Linked DNA regions of Homo sapiens: region 1 is linked to region 2. The links come from fine-mapping of genetic effects on gene expression. Tissue or cell type: whole blood. Region 2 holds a variant in brackets; the other region holds the start of a gene. All regions are shown on one strand. Distances are from middle to middle.

What was found. PIP is the estimated chance that this variant, and not a neighbour inherited with it, causes the effect.
Region 1: OGG1 starts here. The variant in region 2 is fine-mapped to the expression of OGG1 in whole blood (TOPMed, PIP above 0.99). The same link has a PIP of 0.9 or more in sun-exposed skin.

What each region holds. Positions count from the first base shown.
Region 1 is chr3:9,745,861-9,753,959 of GRCh38, reverse strand. It overlaps OGG1 (8-oxoguanine DNA glycosylase), which reads right to left and starts at 4,008. Exons shown (of 7, transcript NM_002542.6): 1 at 3,537-4,008; 2 at 2,768-3,015; 3 at 2,011-2,190. The coding sequence starts at 3,673. BRPF1 (bromodomain and PHD finger containing 1) reads right to left here. Exons shown (of 14, transcript NM_001003694.2): 12 at 8,030-8,099; 13 at 7,506-7,660; 14 at 5,945-6,794. The coding sequence ends at 6,611. RefSeq lists enhancers at 4,235-4,354, 4,385-4,434.
Region 2 is chr3:9,841,675-9,849,776 of GRCh38, reverse strand. RPUSD3 (RNA pseudouridine synthase D3) reads left to right here and starts at 5,769. Exons shown (of 9, transcript NM_173659.5): 1 at 5,769-5,887; 2 at 6,176-6,312; 3 at 7,534-7,578; 4 at 7,695-7,794. The coding sequence starts at 5,787. RefSeq lists enhancers at 422-1,282, 5,827-5,906. The variant C/T (reference allele first, on the strand shown) is at 5,024.

The DNA of each region.
Region 1 (8,099 bases), 96 kb after region 2:
CACTATGTTGCCCAGGCTGGTCTCAAACTCCTGGGCTCAAGCCATCCTCCCACCTTGGGCTCCCAAAAGTGCTGAAATTACCAGCATGAGCTACCCCACCTGGCTAACGCCGTGCTCTTAACCCATTACACTACACTGCCTCATGATTGCTTTATTCACTCCCAAAGCCCTTCTAGATAGAAACTGTTATTCCCATTCTACAAACAAGCTAAGAGAAGCCGGAAGAGGTGAATGACTTTCTTGAGGCCTTATGACTAACTAAGCCAGGAGCTGAGACTCAAGAACAGGTTTCTTTTTTTTTTTGTTGAGACAGAGTCTCACTCTGTCGCCCAGGCTGGAGTGCAGTGGCACGATCTCGGCTCACTGCAAGCTTCGCCTCCCGGGTTCACGCCATTCTCCTGCCTCAGCCTCCCAAGTAGCTGGGACTACAGGCGCCCACCACCACACCCGGCTAATTTTTTTTGTATTTTTAGTAGAGACGGGGTTTCACCGTATTAGGCAGGATGGTCTTGATCTCCTGACCTCGTGATCCACCCGCCTCGGCCTCCCAAAATGCTGGGATTACGGGTGTGAGCCACCACGCCCGGCCAGGTTTTTTTTTTTTTTTTGAGACGGAGTCTCGCCCTGTCGCCCTGTCGCCCAGGCTGGAGTGCAATGGCATGATCTCAGCTCACTGCAACCTCTGCTTCCCAGGTTCAAATGATTCTCCCGCCTCAGCCTCCTGAGTAGCTGGGATTACAGGTACCTGCCACCACGCCCAGCTAATTTTTAGCAGAGAGCGGGTTTCACCAGGTTGGCCAGTCTGGTCTCAAACTCCCGACCTCAGGTGATCCACCTGCCTCAGCCTCCCAAAGTGTTGGGATTACAGGTGTGAGCCACCGTGCCTGACCCAGGTTTCTTTTTGTTTGTTTTGAGATGGAGTCTCGCTCTGTAACCCAGGCTGGAGTGCTGTGGTCTGATCTTGGTTCACTGGAGCCTCCTGCTCCCGGGTTCAAGCAATTCTCCTGCCTCACCCTCCGGAGTAGCTGGGACAGGTGCCTGCCATCACGCCTGACTAATTTTCGTATTTTTAGTAGAGATGGGGTTTCACCATGTTGGCCAGGCTGGTCTTGAACTCCTGACCTCAGATGATCTGCCTGCCTCGACCTCCCAAAGTGTTGGGATTACAGGCGTGAGCCACCACGCCCGGCCAGGAATGGGTTTCTAAGCACCAAAAACATTCTCCTGTTTTGAGGCAGTCTGTCTCTTTGCTATGCAGTTCCCAAGCACTTGTCCTAGCTTGGTTCTCACATCTGCCAATCGATACACTTGCCTCTGTAAAACATTTGCCTTACAGGGCTACTGTGAAGAACACACGTGTTCTTAGATACAAAACTATCCCATTCACTACAATGATACCAGCTTGAATTTTTTTTTTTTTTTTTTTTTTTGAGACAGAGTCTCGCTCTGTTGCCCAGGCTGGAGACGGGGTTTCACTGTGTTAGCCAGGTGTGAGCCACTGCGCCTGGCTGATACCAGCTTGAATTTTACATATACTTCCTGTGTGCCAAACACTGTGCTAGGTGCAGTATGTATATTCCTTTCTTCAACCCTCATGACAACTCCAATAATAGCATAGGTAGGTGCTATTATTATTCTACTTCACAGATGAAGAAACTTTAGTACAGAGATGCTAAATAATGTGCCCAAGTGAGAGTTGGGGTTCAGAACCAGGCATGGGTCTGTCCCCAGAATGCATGCTCTTAACCCCAAACTACTGTACATTGTATACAGATATTTTTCTGATTAGGCATTGAACCCATTGGGCAAAAAGCACAGACCAGTGAGGTGCTGACATTTTAGGGATGCATAGGGAGGATGAGTAACTGGAGTTGATCAGACCAGGCAGGGCGGTTCTGGATAGGGGAAGTGTTTGGGAAGGCAGGAAGCCTTGAGAAGGTAACCAGGGGAGAAATGAACAGATCTTGAAAGCTGATGGAAGGCCTGGGGGCAGGGGACCCACCTACTCACCAGCCAGGGCCTGCAGGCTGGGGAAGCCATGGTAGGTGACATCATCAAGCTGGATGAGCCGAGGTCCAAAAGCCTGGCACAGCCGCTCCACCATGCCAGTGATGCGGGCGATGTTGTTGTTGGAGGAACAGATAAAAGAGAAAAGGCATTCGATGGGGTCTTGTCGCAGCAGTCGCACACCTGGAGACCAGAAATGCAGGGGGTAGGAGAGGTACCTGCTGTTGGGTGTGGCCTCTTCCCACCCACAGGTCAGATCCTAGGTACCAAAACTCCAGGAGGATCCCAGGAGAATGAGAGTCAGCACCGTTAGAGAAAGCAACACCAGACCTCTCATTCCTCATAGCATCTTGTGAGGGCTGAGTTACCATCCCATTCCACAGATAAAGAGGCCACAATGTAAGCTCCATGAGGACTGGCATTTGGGTCTGTTTTGTTCACTGGTGTATCCCCGGTCACACAGCAGATGCTTTGTATATATTTACAGAATGAATGAAATCACTTGCCCTAGGTCACACAACCAGGAATGGGCTCAAAATCCTTGTCACTTCACTATGGTGATTAGCAGGATAATAATAATGGTAATAATACTTACTATGTGCCTGGCATTATTCTAAGCACTTTACATGTATTAGTTCCTTAAATCCTCATAAAAGCCTATGAAGTAGATATAATCCCCATTTTACAGGTGGCAAAACTGAGTCATAGAGAAGTGACTTATGTCCAAGAACCCTAACCCCAGCCCAGGTCCTGTACTCACCTTGGAATTTCTGAGCCACCTCTTGGAAGTGGGAGTCCACGGAACCCCAGTGGTGATACAGTTGAGCCAGGGTAACATCTAGCTGGAAGTACTTGCGCACGGCCTCCAGCTCGTCTGGTGTGGGCCTGCTAGCCTGGCTCTTGTCTCCTCGGTACACAGTGCAGTGGAGCTGCTCCTCAGTCTGAGTCAGTGTCCATACTTGATCCGCTAGTACACCACTCCAGTGTGCAGGACTTTGCTCCCTCCACCTGAGCCCAAGGCACATGACAACCCTGGCACTCAATTTCCTTTCTTGCACCCTTTGGGGTCCCTCCTATCCTACAATAGCTCCATGTACGAAACTAATACAAGTAACAGTGCTATCTTCCAGTCTGAGCAACATGGCGAAACCTCACCTCTACAAAAAATACAAAAATTTAACCGGGCATGGCGCACACCTGTAGTCCCAGCTACTCGGGAGGCTGCGCCCGGGGGGTCGAGGCTGGAATGGGCCTCTCTGCATTCCTACCTGGGCAACAGAGCGAGACCCTGTCTCAAAAAAAGAAAAACAAGTGCTATTATCTTCTGCATCGGTTATACCGCTGGATCCTTACAATTATCACTGTACAGACATATTAAAGGTAACAGGTTGGCTACCCGTGCTTGTTTCCTCTTTTGTACCCCGGGTTTCTTCCATCATCCCCCAAATTCCTTTGTACCCCATGCCAGGCAGTGTTGAGGCGGCAGGAGCCAGTCCGAGGGGACAGGCTTCTCAGGCTCAGTCACTCACCGGAAAGATTGTCCAGAAGGCAGAACCAGGTCCAGGCGCAGCTCAGAGCGAGGGCACGGGATGGAGGCCCACAGGGCAGGAGTGGAGGCTAGAGTACGATGCCCCATGCGCCTGGGCAGAAGCGCGCGGGCAGGCATTTCCACAGCAGGCACCGCCCCGTAGTAGCCCCGCCTACCCAGAACCAGGCCTCGTCGACGCCCAAAGACCCCGCCCAGACAAGGACCACGACCCTTAAGGCCTCGCCCACACGGTGCTGTTTAACAACCTTCCCTGTTTCACTTAATTCCTCCACCTCCTGCATGCCTCGCCCTTTGCGGGTCATCAAAGCCCCGCTTCGTGCCCCAATTCTCCGGCTTTCCTGAGGTGTAGGTCCCGCCCCCTCCTTGCGACTTATCTTCTCCCGCCCCCAGAGCCTGTGGGCGCGCACAGCTGTGTTCTTCTGGGTTCTCCAGGGGCAGACCACAGCACCACCGGAAGTAGGGCTCAACCACCGCTCATTTCACCTAGAGGTAGCCAATCCGAGGAGGAGGTAGGAGGCGCCAATGAGAAATCAGGGTGGGCGGGCCGTTCTGAGGCGCTCGCGCGGTTGGCCGGCACTGGGCTCTCTGCCAGCTGCTCGCCTTTCCCCCTCCGGGATTGTCTGCACTCGGGGCGCTAACGAGTTCCATCTGGGCGCCCCGCGGTTCCTCAGGGCTGTCCGTCTTCAGAGCCACGTCCTTCCCCAGCCCGTTCTCCGAGAGCCGTTCTCCCCCGAGCCTTTGCAGTCTTAGGCGTTCGCCCTCCTTGGGCCGCCTCCCACGAACCCTGTCTTCACCAAGAACCGGAGCGAACACAGCTCCGGCCCCAGAGCCCTCGGGAAGTGTCTCCAGAGTATTATTCTCTTCTGCGCCCGCCCGCTAAGCTTGTCCCATTCAAGGCCTTTAGGCGTCCTCTGAGACCTCAGGACATCAGAGGCCTCTCCTCGGATTGTCGTCCCGCCGGCCGCCACAGCTGCTGCCTGCCGTCTTGGGCATTTCTTCCATACTCCATCTGCTCATGCTTTCCTCGGAATGGGACGTTTGCCGGGGGTTTGTCTGGGGCTGGGCCCAGAAGCCCATCAGGTTGAGTCCAAGTCCCAGTGTGTGGCCCTGAGGCAGCCTGCCTTCTAGTCGCCTGGAGTAGGAGGATGGATTATTTAATTTCTTCCCTTCTGGAGGATGGCATGAAAAAGCAGGGAGCTAGGAGACATGACCTTTATCTGGGCCATTCTCACCTTTTAGCATAGGGATTTGGGGTTGCTGTATCTTAACTATCAGGCTGCAAGTTTTTTTTCTTTGAGACGGAGTCTCACTCTGTCGCCTAGGCTGGAGTGTGATGGCGCGATCTCGGCTCACTGCAAGCTCCGCCTCCCGGGTTCAAGCGATTCTCCTGCCTCAGCCTCCCGAGTAGCTGGGACTACAGGTGCGCGCCACCACGCCCAGCTAATTTTTGTATTTTTAGTAGAGATGGGGTTTCACCATGTTGGCTAGCATGGTCTCGATCTCTTGACCTCGTGATCCAGCCGCCTCGGCCTCTTAAAGTGTTGGGATTACAGGCGTGAGCCACCGCACCCCGCCCAGACTGCAAATTCTTGAAGAGCAACATCTGCAGCGGATTGACCCTTGTGTCCCAGCCAGAGACCTAGCGGAGTGTACCGTCAGCATGGAATCAACATCAGACCAGTGCCATCATTGTCTCAGTGCCAGTCCTCAGTGGCTGCAAGGCCTGGGCCGCCCCTTCTTCCTGTGACTGTTCCTATCTGTAGGCATGCCATCCCACAGGCGCCTAGCACTTGGAAGGCATTCCTTCAATAAATGTCGGTGGAGTCTGGAAAGAAGGTGCTGAGGTTGGGGGTGAGCAAAGAGCAACCGTCTCCATCCCAGCTCTGTCTCCGGTTAAGCAGTGGGGAAGGTCTCAGCTGTATTGATGCTGAAACACTTGGGCCATGCCACTGGCAAAGGACTTGAGGCCTCTAAGGGCCAAGTAGGAATCGATAGTTGACTCTTCCCCTGGCAGTTCAGCATACTGGTTGAAGAGCCAGGTTTGCAAACAGACCTGGGTTCCAATTCTAGCTCTGCACCTTCCTAGTTGTAGGAACTTAGGCAAGATAATTTTTTGAAACTTCAGCATCTTTGTGGAGATAACCAGTCTATTATTAAACTACCCTATAGTTATTGCAAGGATTACGCAAAGCTGAATGTCTAAAGGTGCTCAACACAGGGCCTGCCACTCACTCCATGCATGGGCAACAGGGGCTCTCTTTGCTGTGTCTTATGAAATGTAGCATGCACAGCAGTCAGCAACCACTTGGGCCCAATTATGTATCATCCCTGGGGCACAGAACCTCCCTTTGTATCCCCTTTGCCCTGGCAGGGGGCAAGAACAAAGAATTCTAAATTGACAGTTTATTTTCTAAGAATCAATATATTTTCTTCCTTTGAAATAAATACAAACCAGTTTGAAAGGTGGGGGAATCTATGGGAAAGAGAAGGGAAATGGGGACAGCCCCCAGTCTTTTTTTTTTTTTTTTTTAGTACCAAATGACTCTGGCGCGACCCGGAAACGCAGTTACAAATGAGAATAATTTAAATTCTCCGATAATTACAGTATTTACAACAGCAGGGGAGGGAGTCACCTAGTGCCCCTCTTCCAGGCTGGACAGATGCCCACTCACCTCACGACCGGTAGGGGCCCCAGGCCTCTAGGCAGTTATGGATTCTCCTGGCATGAGCAGGTAGAGGTGGTGGGATGGCCTGTTTTACGCAGTGTCCTAACTTTGGCCCACCACCCCGCCCTACAATGCTGTGAGGTCTCTGGAGCTTTTTCTGACCTGTGGGCCCTCCCTCTCCTTGCGCTGAACTGCCATTGGCCCTTGGAGTGTTCTGTACAGTCCAGCTGCACTTAGGGCAGGAGGGACCTCCCCCACCCAGCTTCCCCTGAGACTGGCCCCAAGACCAGAAATGAGTCAGTGCAGAGGCCGGTGCCACTCCAGGACAGTGAGCAAAGGGGAGGAGAGAAGTCACAGGGCACTATAGGTTGGGCTGTGTTGAGCAGTATCAATCACTATCGCTGGTCTCACTGCTCTGCTCGCCTTGCACCTTGCTGCGGTGCTGCAGAGCCCTGTGGTAGGCGATCTGTACTGACTTGCGGATGTTGGACTTGCGGCCCTCCAGCATCTTCTCCTTGTCTAGGTCCTGGTTCACACCCAGAGGAACCAGCTTGGTCCTGGGCAGCCACTGCCTATAGGATAAGGTGAAGATCAAATAAATCATCTCAGGGAGAACAAGGACCAGCCTTCCTCCTCTATTCACTCAAACACACCACCCAAGCACCCACTCTGGCCAGACTCTGTGATGGTCCCTGCCCTCAAAGGACTGTTCATGGTCTAGAGATGAAAGAGCCCAGTCAACAGTTATACTGTGTGGTGGCGGCGGGAGGGTAATCACAGGGTATTTATGGGTACAAAAAGGAGGCACCCTGACCTCACCAGAAATAGCTACCCTGTGCCATAGGCTCTAGGCAGACTTTACTGACATTGAATATCCTCTGCAGACAATTAACAAAAAGACTACATGTGTAAATGTGACAGAACAGGGATTCAGAGCCTGAATGTTTATGCCTGCTTTATCCTCATTTTGTCACTGTGGAGGCAGAGGTGGGAAAACTAAGTCTAGAAGCCATCTGAGTCTGGGTGGGAGCCACCTCTATATTTGTCATAAGTCTCTGATGGTCCTTTGGTTTCTAGCTATAGCTGTGTCCACTAGTGCCCACTCAGCCTCTCAGACACATGGTCGACACAACCCTTTCGCTCAAAAAACTGTTCTAAGTCCCTCCCCCACTGACTTGTGATAGCCCAGTCTGCCTGTTGCTGGAGTTTCCTGGCAGTCTGCCCCCATACCACACAGGGCTGCATCTGTGGCTGTGAGTCACACCAAATGCTCCCCTCCTTACCAGGTTCGTTTGTTGTCAAAGAAGAGGACGAGGTAGAGATGCTCTCGGGCTTCCTGGGTCATCTGCTCCCCAAGTTTCAGCACCTCCAGTGGGGGCACAGGGATGGGAACCCCATGGTGGAACATACCTTCTCGGGGCATCTTTGGATCAATGATCTGAGGATATAATAAGAGCCCAGTTTGGTTCAGTCCATGTCCTCCCAAGGCTTTTCCTCCTCAAGAACTTAGAGAGTATGTCTGAAGTGGGGACAGAGAGGGTATCATGCTACTAGAACTGCAATGCTGACCCTCAGCTTCTTTCCATGCTAAATTATTTCAGAGCCCAAGGAGCAAAGAGAAGCAAAAGGGAGAGATGGAGAAACTGAGTGGGAGCCTCTAAGTGGTACTCAAGCTGTATCTGCCCACCAGTCTACCTTACCAAGAAACTCTGTGCCCCACAGCTCAGCAGGGAGTAGGAAAAGTCTGCTAACTGTGAATCTGTATTCTGGGATTGGAAAGCAAGAAGTGTAACAGAAGCAAGCATACCAGAGCTGGGTATGATGGATAGCCTCGGCATTTGGCCCACACGAGGTCCAGAGCATCCAGCGGGGAGTCC
Region 2 (8,102 bases):
ACAGTCTTTCTATCCCTGGGAATGGGGAGAAAAAGGAATCTCTACCCCAAGACCAAAAATAATAAGTCCTGTTTCTGGTCCTGAACATCCAGAATTATGGAGGCTTACTGTAGCCTCATACCACATTAGGATTTGGTCTGGAAATCAAACTTTAGAAACAAGAGATCATCAGCCGTTTTATACTATCGACCTAAATTCCAGTCTAACGGTTCCTTTACAAAGTTGTGTAAAGCCCCCTTATATGCTAGTTGTAGGAAATATAGTTATTAAACCAGACTCTCAAACTATAACCTGTAAAAAGTAGATAGTTTACTTGCATTGATTCGACTTTTAATCGGCAGCACCGTATTCTGCTGGTGAGAGCAAGAGAGGGCGTGTGGATCCCTGTGTCCATGGACCGACCGTGGGAGGCCTCGCCATCCGTCCATATTTTGACTGAATATTAAAAGCCATTTTAAATAGATCCAAAAGATTCATTTTTACTTTAATTACAGTGCTTATGGGATTAATTGCAGTCACAGCTACGGCTGCTGTGGCAGGAGTTGCGCTGCACTCTTCTGTTCAGTCAGTAAACTTTGTTAATGATTGGCAAAAAAATGCTACAAGATTGTGGAATTCACAATCTGGTATTGATCAAAAATTGGCAAATCAAATTAATGATTTTAGACAAACTGTCATTTGGATGGGAGACAGGCTCATGAGCTTAGAACATCGTTTCCAGTTACAATGTGACTGGAATATGTCAGATTTTTGTATTACACCCCAAGTTGTAATGAGTCTGAGCATCACTGGGACATGGTTAGACGCCATCTACAGGCAAGAGAAGATAATCTCACTTTAGACATTTCCAAATTAAAAGAACAAATTTTCAAAACATCAAAAGCCCATTTAAATTTGGTGCCAGGAACTGAGGCAATCGCAGGAGTTGCTGATGGCCTCACAAATCTTAACCCTGTCACTTGGGTTAAGACGATTGGAAGTACTACGATTATAAATTTCATATTAATCCTTGTGTGCCTGTTTTGTCTGTTGTTCAAGTCTGCAGGTGTACCCAACAGCTCTGAAGAGACAGCGACCATCAAGAACGGGCCATGATGATGATGGCAGTTTTGTCGAAAAGAAAAGGGGGAAATGTGGGGAAAAGAGAGATCAGATTGTTACTGTGTCGTGTAGAAATAAGTAGACATAGGAGACTCCATTTTGCTCTGTACTAAGAAAAATTATTCTGCCTTGAGATGCTGTTAATCTATAACCTTACCCCCAACCCCGTGCTCTCTGAAACATGTGCTGTGTCCACTCAGGGTTAAATGGATTAAGGGCGGTGCAAGATGTGCTTTGTTCAACAGATGCTTGAAGGCAGCATGCTTGTTAAGAATCATCACCACTCCCTAATCTCAAGTACCCAGGGACACAAACACTGCGGAAGGCCGCAGGGTCCTCTGCCTGGGAAAGCCAGGTATTGTCCAAGGTTTCTCCCCATGTGATAGTCTGAAATATGGCCTCGTGGGAAGGGAAAGACCTGACCGTCCCCCAGCCCGACACCTGTAAAGGGTCTGTGCTGAGGAGGATTAGTAAAAGAGGAAGGCATGCCTCTTTGCAGTTGAGACAAGAGGAAGGCATCTGTCTCCTGCCCGTCCCCGGGCAATGGAATGTCCCCTGGGCAATGGAATGTCTCGGTATAAAACCCGATTGTATGTTCCATCTACTGAGATAGGGGAAAACCGCCTTAGGGCTGGAGGTGGGACATGCGGGCAACAATACTGCTCTGTAAGGCATTGAGATGTTTTATGTGTATGCATATCTAAAGCACAGCACTTAATTCTTTACCTTGTCCATGATGCAGAGACCTTTGTTCACGTGTTTATCTGCTGACCTTCTCTCCACTATTATCCTATGACCCTGCCACATCCCCCTCTCCGAGAAACACCCAAGAATGATCAATAAATACTAAGGGAACTCAGAGGCTGGCGGGATCCTCCATATGCTGAACGCTGGTCCCCTGGGCCCCCTTATTTCTTTCTCTATACTTTGTCTCTGTGTCTTTTTCTTTTCCAAGTCTCTCGTTCCACCTAACAAGAAACACCCACAGGTGTGGAGGGACAACCCACCCCTTCAGAAAGTAATAGTTTATTTCATTTATTTATATTTTTTCTCTCCTTTTCACAGGTGTTGAACAGTTTATTTTACTAATGCATGTGGTTTACCCCAACACATCCCAAATATCATGATTCCAACATGTGGTGTTGGCTGCATTTTCAGAGCTTGCAGTCATACGTCTTAGTCTGTTGGGGCTGCTGTGACAAAATACTGTAAATTGGGTCTCTCTAACAACAGCAATATAATGTTCACAGTTCTGGAGGCTGGCAGTCCAAGATCAGCTGGCATACAGGGTGTCTGGTGAGGGCCCACTTTCTGGGTCATGCCTGCCATCTTCCCACTGTGGTCACATGGCGGAAGGGGCGAGGGAGCTCTCTGGGGCCTCTTGTATAAGGGCGCTAATCCCAACCACAAGGGCCCCACCCTCATGACCCCATCACCTCCCAAAGATGCCACCTCCAGATGCCATCACCTTGGGGATGAGGTGTCAACACATGAGTTTGGGGGGACACAGACATTTGTTCATGTGGTAAGTGGCTCCAATGCTGGCCTGCCTCTGAGGCCTGGCCTCCTGGTGGAGGGCCGTGCAGGCACAGGGCTCTCGTGCACTGGGGTCCCCGGGGACACCTCCCACCCCTGCCCAGGCTCTACTTGGGAGTTGGCAGGTGCTGAGTCCTCTTGTGACCTTCTTAAGAAAGTCCCTCCTGGCCAGGTTCAGTGGCTCATGACAGTAATCCCAGCACTTTAGGAGGCCGAGTCGGGTGGATAACTTGAGGCCAGGAGTTCAAGACCAGCTTGGTCAACATGGTGAACCCCTTTCTCTACTGAAAATACAAAACTTAGCAGGGTGTGGTGGCAGGCGCCTGTAATCTCTGTTACTTGGGAGGCTGCAGCTAGAGAATCGCTTCAACCCAGAAGGCAGAGGTTGTAGCGAGCCGAGATCACGCCATTGTACTCCAGCCTGGGCAACAGAGCAAGACTCTGTCTCAAAAAAAAAAAAAGAAAGTCCCTTCTCTCAGAGCTCAGGGCTGATAACAGAGCAAGAAATGCATCCTCGGGGAGAGAGAGCAGCCTGGCCTGGCCTGGCCTGGGAAGGCTGGCTTCAACCATCAAAGACAGCTCTCACACCTCAGGCCCCAGGGCCTGGGGCTTGATCCCTGCATCCCCTCTTCCGCTGGCTGAGCTCTGTGCCTCAAGAGTGAGACTCCACCCTCCCAGCACTCCCTCACAAGCAGACCGGGCCCCATCCTGCCTCTGCTGACCCCCACTCCCCTGGGGCCTGCTCTCTGGGTCAGGACCCGCATGGAAACCAGGGGCAGGCCATCCCAACACCTCCCAGAGGCTGCCGGCAGCTCAGGCTGGTTTTCCTGTGACCAGTGCAAGTGTTCTTTTCAGTTATCTGACTTCCTTCCGGGGCATTCTGAGCCCACCCATAGCTTTTGGCATGCCTTTAAGGGACACAAAGAACCACAACAGCCACTGTGTCCTCATCTGTAAGGCAGGGCCCCAACCCACCCTGCCTTCCTCATAGGGGTGTGTAATGCTGGATGAAAAAGCCTATTAGAAAGTGTCCGTCAAAGGCCGGGCACGGTGGCTCACACCTGTAATCCCAACACTTTGGGAGGCTGAGGCAGGTGGATCACCTGAGGTCGGGAGTTTGAGACCAGCCTGGTCAACATGGTGAAACCCCATCTCTACTAAAAAATACAAAAAATTAGGCAGGTATGATGGTGCATGCCTGTAGTATCAGCTACTTGGGAGGCTGGGGCAGGAGAATTGCTTGAACCCAGGAGGCAGAGGTTGCAGTGAGCCAAGATCGTGCCACTGAACTCCAGCCCGGGTGACAGAGTGAGACTCCATCTCGAAGGAAAAAAAAAAAGAAGTGTCTGTCAAAGGCCCCGTGCGGCCTTTAATCCCAGCACTCTGGGAGGCCGAAGTAGGTGGGTGAATCCCTTAAACCCAGGAGTTTGATTTTTTAAAAATTATTTTGTTATTTTTATTTTCTTATCTTGAGCCCAGGAGTTTGAGACCAGCCTGGGCAACATCGTGAGACCCCATATCTTTAAAAAAAAAAAAAAAAAAAAAAAAAGCTAGGTATGGTGGTGCACACCTGTAGTCCCAGCTATTCAGGAGACTGAAGTGGGAGGATCGTTTGAGCCTGGGAGGTTGAGGCTGCAGTGAGCTGTGATTGTGCCACTGCACTCCAGCCTGGATGACAGAGCAAGCAAAAAAACACATTAGTGGCCGGGCACAGTGGCTCACGTCTGTAATCCTAGCACTTTGGGAGGCCAAGGCGGGCGGATTGCCTGAGCTCAGGAGTTCGAGACCAGCCTGGGCGACATGGTGAAACCCCGTCACTAAAATACAAAAAATTAGCCGGGTGTGGTGGCGGGCACCGCACCTGTAATTCCAGCTACTCAGGAGGCAAAGGCAGGGGAATCGCTTGAACCCGGGAGGTGGAAGTTGCAGTGAGTCGAGATCGGGCCACTGCACTCTAGCCTGGGTGACAGAGCGAGACTCTGTCTCCAAAAAACAAAAACCAAAACACATTAGGAAAATGTTCACACCAAACTCAAAGTGGAGACTGGGGAGGGAGTGAAAACTGGAAGCACGCAGTAAAGGGGAATTTACTTTTATCCCTTTCATTTCTTAAACAAGAAAAACAGGAAACCTATACATATATATATTGTTTCACAATGACTAATTCTGATGGTAGGAATGTGGGCAGTCATTATATTATTCTTTTTTTTCTGTGTTCTTCTACTTTCTTTTTCTTTTTTCTTTTTTTTTTTTTTTTGAGACGGAGTCTCGCTCGTCGCCCAGGCTGGAGTGCAGTGGCACGATCTCGGCTCACTGCAAACTCCGCCTCCCGGGTTCACGCCATTCTCCTGCCTCAGCCTCCCGAGTAGCTGGGACTACAGGCGCC[C/T]GCCACCACGCCCGGCTAATTTTTTTGTATTTTTGGTGGAGACGTGGTTTCACCGTGTTAGCCAGGATGGTCTCGATCTCCTGACTTCGAGGGGCCACAGGACTAGTAGAGCCAAGAGTTGAGGGTCCGGGTGGGGTGATCCGGCCGTCAGAAATGCAAAAGCCTGGAAAGACATCTCCAAAGGCCAATCTCAGGTTGGACAATCGTGAGCTGGGGAAGCTGCAAACACTGTGACCTCCGGAATAACCGCTGGTAATCAGTTACCTCTAACCCTTAGCAGAATTCAGGTCCCTCTACTACTCCTAACCTGGTGGCCTTTCATTAACTCTATGAAGCCAGTTTAGTTCGGGGGAAGGGCAATTATCATTTAGACTACGAACTAATTTCTCCCAAAGTTAGCTTGGCCCAAGCCCAGGAATGACCAAGGACCGTTTAGAGGTTAAAGGCAAGCTGCGGGTTGGTTAGATCAGATCTCTTTCGCTGTCATAATTTTGTAATATAATTTTTGCAAAGGCGGCTTCAGGTTTTTTGCTAAGACAGGTTTTTTGATCAGATCAAATTCTTCTGCTACAGCGCTCTCCCTAAAAGCATAGGAAGGCATTTCTGCATTTCCTTCCTGGGCGGAGGAAAAGCCCCGCCTCCTCAGGCTCTGAGTCCCGCCCGGTCACCATTCCGATTGACACTCCAGCTGACCAATCAGCGCGCTGGCTGGAGCGCGGGTCTGCCCCTCTGGACGCACATGCGCGCTGTCCTGGCTCGGGAGATGGACGGCCGCCGTGTTTTGGGCCGGTTCTGGAGTGGCTGGCGGCGGGGCCTGGGTGTCCGCCCAGTGCCCGAGGACGCAGGCTTTGGCACCGAAGCCCGGTGATTAAGTACCCCCTCTCTCATGCGGGACGGAGGCTAGGGCAGGGGGAAGGCACGTGCGGGATCTGGATCAGGTAGATGTTACCCGAAAACAGCCCCGTTGGCCTCTCTGAGCCTCGGTGCCCTCCGCTGTAGAATGGGACCGGTCGTACCTGAATTTTCGAGGTCAGCCCAGACATTGTGAGGCATTTGTCAGAGGCCGCAGGATTTGGGAAGAGGCGTCCGGAGATAGGAATGGGTGGCACCTCGGGATGGAATGACTCCCATTGCTTCTCCCTCCTTGTCCAGGCATCAGAGGCAACCCCGCGGCTCCTGCCAACGGTCGGGGCCCCTCGGGGACCAGCCCTTCGCGGGGCTGCTGCCAAAAAACCTCAGTCGGGAGGAGCTGGTTGATGCGCTGCGGGCAGCCGTGGTGGACCGGAAAGGTGAGGGGTGAGAGGCACGGCCGCACAAGGACCGGGAGGGGACTGCCTCGGCGTGCAGTTGGGCTCTCCATTGAAGCCACGGGATCAGCCCTGCTTCTGCCTCCCACTAGCAGCATGAGCTGGGACAAGCCACCTAATTTGCACCCTCTCCCCGCTTTTAACCCTACTGCCATGATGCAGTAGGGTTAAGAGTGGGGAGAAGATGCAAATAACTACCGAGCCTTGCACATAGCCGGCGCTCAGTTACGGGAGTTGCTATACTAGATTATTGTTTATTGGCCGCGGTGGCTCACGCCTGTAATCCCGGCACTTTAGGGTGCTGACGCGGGCGGATCACCTGAGGTCAGGAGTTCGAGACTAGCCTGGCCAACATGGTGAAACCCCGTCTCTACTAAAAACACAAAAATTAGCCAGGTGTGGCGGCGTCCGCCTGTAATCCCAGCTACTCGGGAGGCTGAGGCAGGAGAGTCACTTGAACCCGGATAGCAGAGGTTGCAGTGAGCCGACATCGTGCTACTGCGCTCCAGCCTGGGATGACAGAGCAAGACTCAGTCTAAATAAATAAATAAATAAATAATGATTATTTATCGACGGACAAAACACAGGCTTTGGAGTCAGACATACCTAGGCTCTGTGATCAGCTTGCTGTGCGGCTTTAGGAAAATAACTGAATTTCTCTGAACCCCACTCTCTATTCAGTGATTTATTCCTTTTCTCAACTATTTCTTGAACATATGCTATGTTCCAGGCACTGTTCTAGGCAGGCTATACAGTGCTGAAAAAGATAGATATGGTTTCTGCTCTCAGGGGAGAAATGGATTTCTCTCTAACGGGAGAAATGGATGTCAGAAAATAAATGAACAAGTTACTAGTGGTAAGTGCTATGCATAAACTAAAACAGGGTGTTATGATGGTGAGGAACTGCAGGAGGAAGGCAGACATTAGATTGGAGATTCAGACCTCTCCGTGATGTGACATTTGAGCCAAGATGATAGGGAGCCAGACCTGGGAAATTTGGGGACAGGAAACAGCAAGTGCCGAGGCTCTGAGGTGGCAGAGGAACAGAAAGAAGTTGAATTTGGTGTGGGGTAGTTAACTCATGTCTGAGAGTCATGATGGGGACATGTGCTAAGATGCGTGAGAAAGTGCTCTGGAAACTCTTTAGTGCTGCATAAAGGGTTACCGTTGCTTTTGCTGATGTTCGTGTGATGTATGTTTCAGGACCTCTAGTGACGTTGAACAAGCCACAGGGTCTACCAGTGACAGGTATGGGCCGGGGATGTGGGAAGGGAATGCAGCGGAAGGGGGTTTCGTGACTGAGGGAGGGAAAAGTGAAGGCATGAAGCTTTGGCCTCTTGTAATTTTTCTTTCTTACTTTCCAGGAAAACCAGGAGAGCTGACGTTGTTCTCAGTGCTGCCAGAGCTGAGCCAGTCCCTAGGGCTCAGGGAGCAGGAGCTTCAGGTTGTCCGAGCATCTGGGAAGTAAGTGGTAGGGGTGACAGGAAGCTAGGAGTACAGGCATCCATCTGTGGTGGGGAAACAGCTGCTTGGGGATAAGCTGAGACATTTTCCATGGGAAGGTTTGAGATCATAGAGGTGGATACAAGTACTGTGAAGAAGAGGAAGCCGATGGCTCTGGGTTCAAATCCTCAAGTACAAATGGTGTGATACCAGGCAAAGCATGACACCTCCCTGACGCTGGGCACAGTGACTCACACCTGTAATCCCAACACTTCTGGAGGCCAAGGCAAGAGGATCACTTGAGCCCAGGAGTTCGAGACCAGCCTGGG